Homo sapiens: one gene and its partner. The protein of the gene in region 2 purifies or fractionates together with the protein of the main gene of each other region. This does not show direct contact. Each region holds a gene or a part of one and is shown on either strand. Other genes may lie near its edges.

Region 1 (3,655 bases), on a different chromosome or scaffold from region 2:
ATGTGGGGCTGACAGTTTGTCTTTCAGTATATTAAAGATGCCACTCCATTGAGTTCTGGCTTGCCCACTTCTGACTCAAAACACACGCCTCCTCTTCTGCCATATAGTGCCGGGGTGTGAGTCCATCTAGTCAGGGTCAAGCTGGGTTTGCGTTTTGTGATTGCTGTGGTTACGTTCAGTGTACTTGGGGCTTCAGTTTTTCTCGCTGTGGGCTGCCACTACCATTGTCGTTTGCTGAGGGTGGCAGCTGGGGTACCAGTGGTCTTCTAGTGTGAGTATTCCACCCGGCGTTTAGCGGTACCTGCACCCCTGCGTAATGGGTGGGACCTCCTATCTGTGCTTGGTCTCGGGCAGGACTTCCTACAGCTCCTCCTGGAATAAGGAGCATTAGTTCTCCTCTCCCACAGTTGCAGTATTTTTGCTGGGCCCACAGGGTGGACAGGCTTTGGGGCCCCTCCACCAGCAGGTTAAGCCTTTTGCTTTGCACGAGAAAAGGGCCCAGCAGAGTGCTTGATGATTCATGGCTGTCAGTCAGTTGCTTCTGCCTGCTATGAGACATCTCTCCTGTTTTTCCTGACCATCTTTCTTGAAGCACCCATGGGAGGCAGGTACCCTGTGGAAGTCAGAAGGTTGTCTGGGAATGTGAGCTCCCTGTGTCGGGCACATCTGGCTTTGTTTGAGCCACCCCATGCTCCTGCCAGCCACCATCTGGCCCTGGGCAGCTGACTGCAATTCGAGCTGATTTCTCCCTGCCCTGTTAGGTGCTAGCAGGTGTCCTGTCCATCCGGGCTCTGCTGAGGGGCAGTTCTCTTTCCCATCTTGGGAAGTTAGGTTGTTTGTGTGCTTTGCAACCCCAGCTCTCTGATGGGCTCAAGAAAAGATCTTGAAGTTTATGTAGCTTTTTCTACTGTAGGGTCAGTGACGTTCTTTGCAGTTTTCTGTATTCTAAGCAGAAACTGGTCCTATTTGGAATTTTTATTTTGAATTTTGTCAGAAAATAAGTGTGTCTCTTTGAGGATGCATATTTGTATACACAGGTGCATTTATCATTGCTGCATAATCTATATTCATGTTACAGTTGACTTTCTGCTTATTAGAAATGTAAATCCTCTTGAACATAAAATCTGAAAGGCAAAAGTCTCACATCCAAGGTATTTCTTCAAGGCCATCATTGAAGCTTTCAGGTTAGCTTGGTAGATGTCATGAAAGTCTCAGGGCCCCTCAGATGTGATGGGAAGGTTGCTGGAGGACACCCTCCCTCTGTTATCCCTAGCAAATCCCTTCCAGGAAGGCTCCTCAGAGCCTCGACAGGTACACAGTGGACTCCCTCCCTCTGCGGGGACTTCTTACTGAGAAACTTGATTGTAGATGGAAGCTTCTCAGCACATTCCAAACTGTGACCATGGATCAGTGTGGGCCATGTTCCAGTTGAACATACTAGGAAGTGCTTTGCTCTGTCTCAGTCCCCATGGATGCAGAACTCTACAGCTTTTGTTTTCCTTACACTCTAAGGAACTTGAATAGCATGTAAGTGCATTTCCAGATACACAGAGACTGGAGGTAACTGTACAGGAGAGGTCTGCTTAATCACTCCTCTTTGCGTATGTTTGAGACAGGTGCTCAGTAATCCAGTATTACAGATGATTTAAATGGGTAACCTATTTTCATTTGTCTCGCTGATTTTTAAACATTGTCTTTTTGTAATTCCTTTTTGTAGACAGCTGATTTTACTTCTAGAGTTATATAGTCCCAGAGATGTTTATGACTATTTACGTCCCATTGCTCTGAATCTGTGTGCAGACAAAGTTTCTTCTGTTCGTTGGATTTCCTACAAGTTGGTATGTATTGAACTTTTAAAATTTTAGATCAGCAAACTCTAAGATCCTAGAATGGAAGCTGTTCCTCATTTCTCCATGCTCACCCTCCCAGGTCAGCGAGATGGTGAAGAAGCTGCACGCGGCAACACCACCAACGTTCGGAGTGGACCTCATCAATGAGCTTGTGGAGAACTTTGGCAGATGTCCCAAGTGGTCTGGTCGGCAAGCCTTTGTCTTTGTCTGCCAGGTAAGCGAGGCCCTGGGCTTACCTGTTTGTGAGTTTTTCTCCTAGAAGAATGTCTTCTTTAACTTCCTACCTCTCTCTCACCCTCTTCCTTACTCTTAAGGAACAGAACCTTATAGTAGCCTGGCTGTTTATAGGATCATCTGCCCCCATTGTTGGGCATCTGGTGGCCCCTCTCTCCCAGCTAGCCAAGCCCCTCCTTACACTGGCATGCACCACACACACCCCACGTGCCTGCTGTATGTGCTTGTTCCACACCACATGCCTGGTATGTGCGTGTTCTGCTCTGCACACATTCAGACGTGTGTATATGTACATTTCACAGTGCACATACATGCATGTTCCTCACTGTTCCTCACTGCATATTACACAGGCATACATACATGTACCCCACCACACACATACTGTGCACACATATACCATACCACGGTTCCCACTAGAGGGTGCTCATGTCTGGGACCCAGAGCGCAGGTGTGAAAATGAAACACCTGTGAATGAACACTCTAGGTCTCCGTAGAGCAGTTTAAAAACTGTGTCTGTCCGTGTGGGCAGTTAATTATGTAATTTTTGATTTGAGTTCCCAAGTACGTGGAATTTTGGTTAAAAAGCAATAACTAAAATTTGTACCTGTGGTCACTCAGAGATTTTGTTAGCCAGTAGTCGAGTTTTTGGCTACATTGACAGAGAAGCCTAGAGCAGCTGTTTCTCTTCCCCAGACTGTCATTGAGGATGACTGCCTTCCCATGGACCAGTTTGCTGTGCATCTCATGCCGCATCTGCTAACCTTAGCAAATGACAGGGTTCCTAACGTGCGAGTGCTGCTTGCAAAGACATTAAGACAAACTCTACTAGAAAAAGGTAGGTAGTGACTCCACTAGAAGAAGCGTGTGAGTAGAGAAGGAGGTCTGTGGACTGCACTGGATCAGCAGATATCAAAGCAGAAGTATTGTCTGCTCAGAGAAAATAATCTGGTGGAAGGAAATACTTTAGTTGTTCCGGTGATTCTCCCAAGAGGGCATGGAAGATGAAAGGGATTTTTTAATTAGCCCTCTACTGTTCTAGTTGGAGTTTATTTATCGGAAGCATGTATCATTTTTATCATTTAAAACTTAGGTTTTTTTGTTTGCTTGATATTTTGAGACGGAGTCTCGCCCTGTCACCCAGGCTGGAGTGCAATGGTGCGATCTCAGCTCACTGTAACCTCTGCCTTCCGGGTTCAAGCAATTCTTCTGCCTCAGCCTCCCCAGTAGCTGGGATTACAGGTGCCCGCCACCACGCCCAGCTAATTTTTTGTATTTTTAGTAGAGATGGGGTTTCACCATGTTGGCCAGGCCGGTCTCGAACTCCTGACCTCATGTGATCTGCCTGCCTCAGCCTCCCAAAGTGCTGGGATTACAGGCATGACCCACCGTGCCTGACCTAAAACTTAGTTTTTAAACTTGGGTGTTGTTTTTATGTACAAACCATTGCCTGGCAGCGTGCCACTTGCAATCTGCAGTATGGGGGCTGGTACCTACCTATGTTTGCTCTCCCTTCTGCTTTCTCTTCATTAGGCAAGAGACAGATGCCCCATAGTATTTGTTTTGTTGGAAAT
Region 2 (3,616 bases):
GCCTAGATGAGTGACCATACTTTTTTCTTTGCTGCTTGGTTTTTCTATCACTAAAAAGCAAATTTAGGTGGAAGATGGATGGGTAAGTCCTTTGTCCTTGTCAAAAGAATTTAGAAAGGGTAAAGGTGGTGGGATTTGAATTCTTTTAAACGGTTTATTCATTGGAAAGGCAAGTGAGTGGCAGTTGACTGTAGAATCTTGGGAATTTTTGAAGGAATTTAAGAGCTGTACTTATTTTAAATAATGAGGAAACAATCAGAGAGACTTAACCAGGGTGGCAACTATGGAAGAGTGGGGGTAGAATCCAAGTCTACAGTTCTACGGCACTGCTTTGTTTATTTTTTCAATCAAGCACACATGAGGGATTGCTTAATAAATTCAAGAGTTTTCTATATAGTTTGGGATTACTACAGACACAGGTACTCTAGCCATGTGACTATTTCAGATTAGTGTTCCCATTGCTCTCCATCCTATTTTTCATATCTAAATGTGTCATGATTTTAGAATCTCTTTGTAAAGAAAACCAAAAAGAGCCATGCCCAAAAGAATGAGCATGAAATGAAGCAATTCAAGTATTTAGAATTTCTTCTTCTTTTTTTTTTTTTTTTTTCAAAATTCTGAGTTAAGAAAGTTCATTGCCAACAGTTGAGGATAAATAGCTCTATTGATTTAGGCAAATGAATGAGAAGATTTAAACATCATCAAGACTCCCAAAGTTGGTGTAATAAAAGTTGAGATGTTTTGCTAGATGCTGAGAGAAAAGGCATAAATAGGCCATTTGTGCTCCTGTAAACAAATGAAATTTTGTAATGATCAAGAGACAGCAAGATATTATAAAACACACTTTGGACTCATCGAGACCTGGCTCAGAGTTGTACCTAATTTGCTTATCAGCATTTGGTTAGACCTTAGACAAATTTTATAACCTCTCTAAGCCCATTTTCTTTATCTGTAAATAAAGGAAAAAGATCTGTTTGGATTTGGGACAGGAGAGTTGTCTGTTTTATAGGGTAATGTTTATGAAAATAATTTATCACCTAGGTACTTAGTAAATACCAGTTTCTGTCTCTGTTTTTCTTCAAAGCTTTGTTGACAATGTAGGATATTGCCAACTAATCCTTTGACTTGAGTGCTTAGCCATGCCCCAATCCAGGCAGCATGAAGAATGATCAAGAAGGGGACACCTAGTGGCAGTTGACCTTTGAGGATCTATCTAGGATCAGGTTACTGATTTGGGACCTCTGAATCAGTACATCATAACATCGAGAGTGATCTCTGCCAAAATTAAAATTCTGTCAGAACAGTATAAGCAGAAGGAAGACATTAGGTCTTTCTGAAATATGGAGCTGATAACTTCTATCAGTTCTGAATTCTGTACTGTCCCACCCCCAAATCATCTATATTGTTGCATGTGCTTAGCTTTGTGCCTTGAATTGCTATTTCCTTTTTATCTTGCACTCAGATGGTATTTTTAGAGATGTTTCTTCAATCAAAACAAGATAAAGTTAAAAAAAAAAAAAAAACAGTGACCCTTTTGCATAAGCCAGAAGAGCAGTGCCTTGCTTCCTGTGAAAAATGCTTGGCAGTTAGCCTGTGTAATTATTTAGCAATCATGTTAATAGATGTTTAAGAATAATGGAACTGGAGCTGTACTGAGCCAAGGATGGAAATGAAGACATGTGAGACTATTTTTTCTTCATCCACCGATACTCTTCAGTTACAAGGATTTAATTTAAAAGGGTTTTAATTAAATGGAATCCAGAAGCTTTGGACGCTCCAGTTTTTCTTCTTAGAGACAAACCCTAGCTCAGTTTCCTGGAGCTTGACTCAGAATGCAGCATGGTACTCCGGACTGACAGTGTGCCAGCTTTATTCACTTATCTCTCTACCTTTTGGCTTGCGTTTATTTCAGGGCTGCCTGACATTTTGACCTTATGTACAAAGATGGCCGATACGATTATTTTTCATCATATATTACAGAAAATACTACTCTTGAAAAATACTCTGAGAAATATGTTCTATGGTCAGATAAGTTTGGGAAACAGTGAATTATTGTTCCTCCTTTGCAGAATCACAATGCACTGTTAGCTAATTAAAGACTCTCAGATGTCCCACTGGAAAGAATCATGTTTAGCTTTGTTTAACCTAGCATTTCCCAAACTTATTAGAGCATAAAACTTTGTTTTTGTTTTTTTTTAATAAGATAGGTAGCTATTTCCTTAGAACACAGTTTGGGAAACTTTTTGTTCATTTGTTTTAATAAGATACCTTAGGTAGCTATTTCCTTAGAACACGAGCCGGGTGCAGTGGCTCACGCCTGTAATCCCAGCACTTTGGGAGGCCCAGGCGGGCGGATCACCTGAGGTCAGGAGATCGAGATCATCCGGCCCAACATGGTGAAACCCCGTCTCTACTAAAAAGACAAAAATTAGCCAGCCATGGTGGCAGGCACCTGTAGTCCTAGCTACTGTGGAGGCTGAGGCAGGAGAATCACTTGAACCCGGGATGGGGAGGTTGCAGTGAGCTGAGATGGCGCCACTGTACTCCAGCCTGGGCGACGAGCAAAAACTCCTTCAAAAAAAAAAAAAAAACATAACTTAGGTAGCTATTTCCTTGGGAACCAATATCTTTACATTGGCTAGAACTGTGAATCGCCCTTTAAAGATAAAGCCCCAAAATACATTTTTTTTCCCTACAGGTAACCAGAGGGTGAAGTAACAGCCGAAGAGGAAACCAGAAGTGAAGTGATTTGTACAAAATGTCGTAGTGTAATTTATTGAGTGTCATGTGGTATTAATCGCAACATCCTGAAAATGCAAATGAATAAAAGTTTGGTCAATGTACCATGACATTCCTTCATGTGAGCCTCCTAAGAAAAGGTCACTGAGCATTCTCTGTTTACATTTTAATTTTAGACTCCAGAATTTCACACTAAGTTTTTCTTCTCATTTCTTATGCAGTAAAAGAAGAGTTTGTATTTCCAATGTGTCTGGCTTTCTGTTCTTTAGTTTTTGTTTCCTTAAAAAGTTTAAACTCCAAAAAGAGAAAAGGATTACTTAGCATAACCAATAGAGGTGGTCTGGAAATAATAAAAGAAAATGAAGGCAAATATAAAACATGAAGACAGTTTCCTCGCATAAGAATATTTAACACACAAGGACCCCAGCAGTTACTTTGCATTAAGCATACTGAATTCTTTCTTGATCTCCAGAATAACTGTCCCCACAATCCTCTTCCCCTCTACCTTTGATTTAACATTGTGCACTCTCTCTATTATACTTATCTTTGTGTTGCAACCTAAGTTCAAGAACCTCAAAGGTAGCTGCTTCTCTTTGAAAGATGCCTGGTTTAATATAAAAAGCTCTTTTAAGAGCTGAATTTATTGACATTTTTCGAAAAACAGTTCTGGATGGGAAGTGATCCTTTTCTACTTTAGTTCACTGGTTCATTTGGGCCATTTTTGATTGGTTGGTTGGTTGGTTGCTTAGTTTTTTCCATCTGGTTTCTAGTTCAGTTGTCCACAAAGTGAACTAAAAGTGCTTACTGTGTTACTGTATTTTCATTACCTTTTTGCTTCCAGTGCTAGTTTCTTCTCATCTCAGACTGCCACGAAAAT

What was found.
Region 1: the proteins of AQR (region 2) and PPP4R1 fractionate together in Homo sapiens (co-fractionation; one large-scale study listed by BioGRID). This does not show direct contact.

Annotation. Positions count from the first base shown.
Region 1 is NC_000018.10:9,548,461-9,552,115, reverse strand, and holds part of PPP4R1 (serine/threonine-protein phosphatase 4 regulatory subunit 1), read left to right. Parts: intron 1-1,717; coding exon 1,718-1,838; intron 1,839-1,929; coding exon 1,930-2,064; intron 2,065-2,777; coding exon 2,778-2,919; intron 2,920-3,655. UniProt on the Homo sapiens protein: Regulatory subunit of serine/threonine-protein phosphatase 4. May play a role in regulation of cell division in renal glomeruli. The PPP4C-PPP4R1 PP4 complex may play a role in dephosphorylation and regulation of HDAC3.
Region 2 is NC_000015.10:34,851,150-34,854,765, reverse strand, and holds the end of AQR (RNA helicase aquarius), read left to right. Parts: 3' UTR 1-2,984; downstream 2,985-3,616.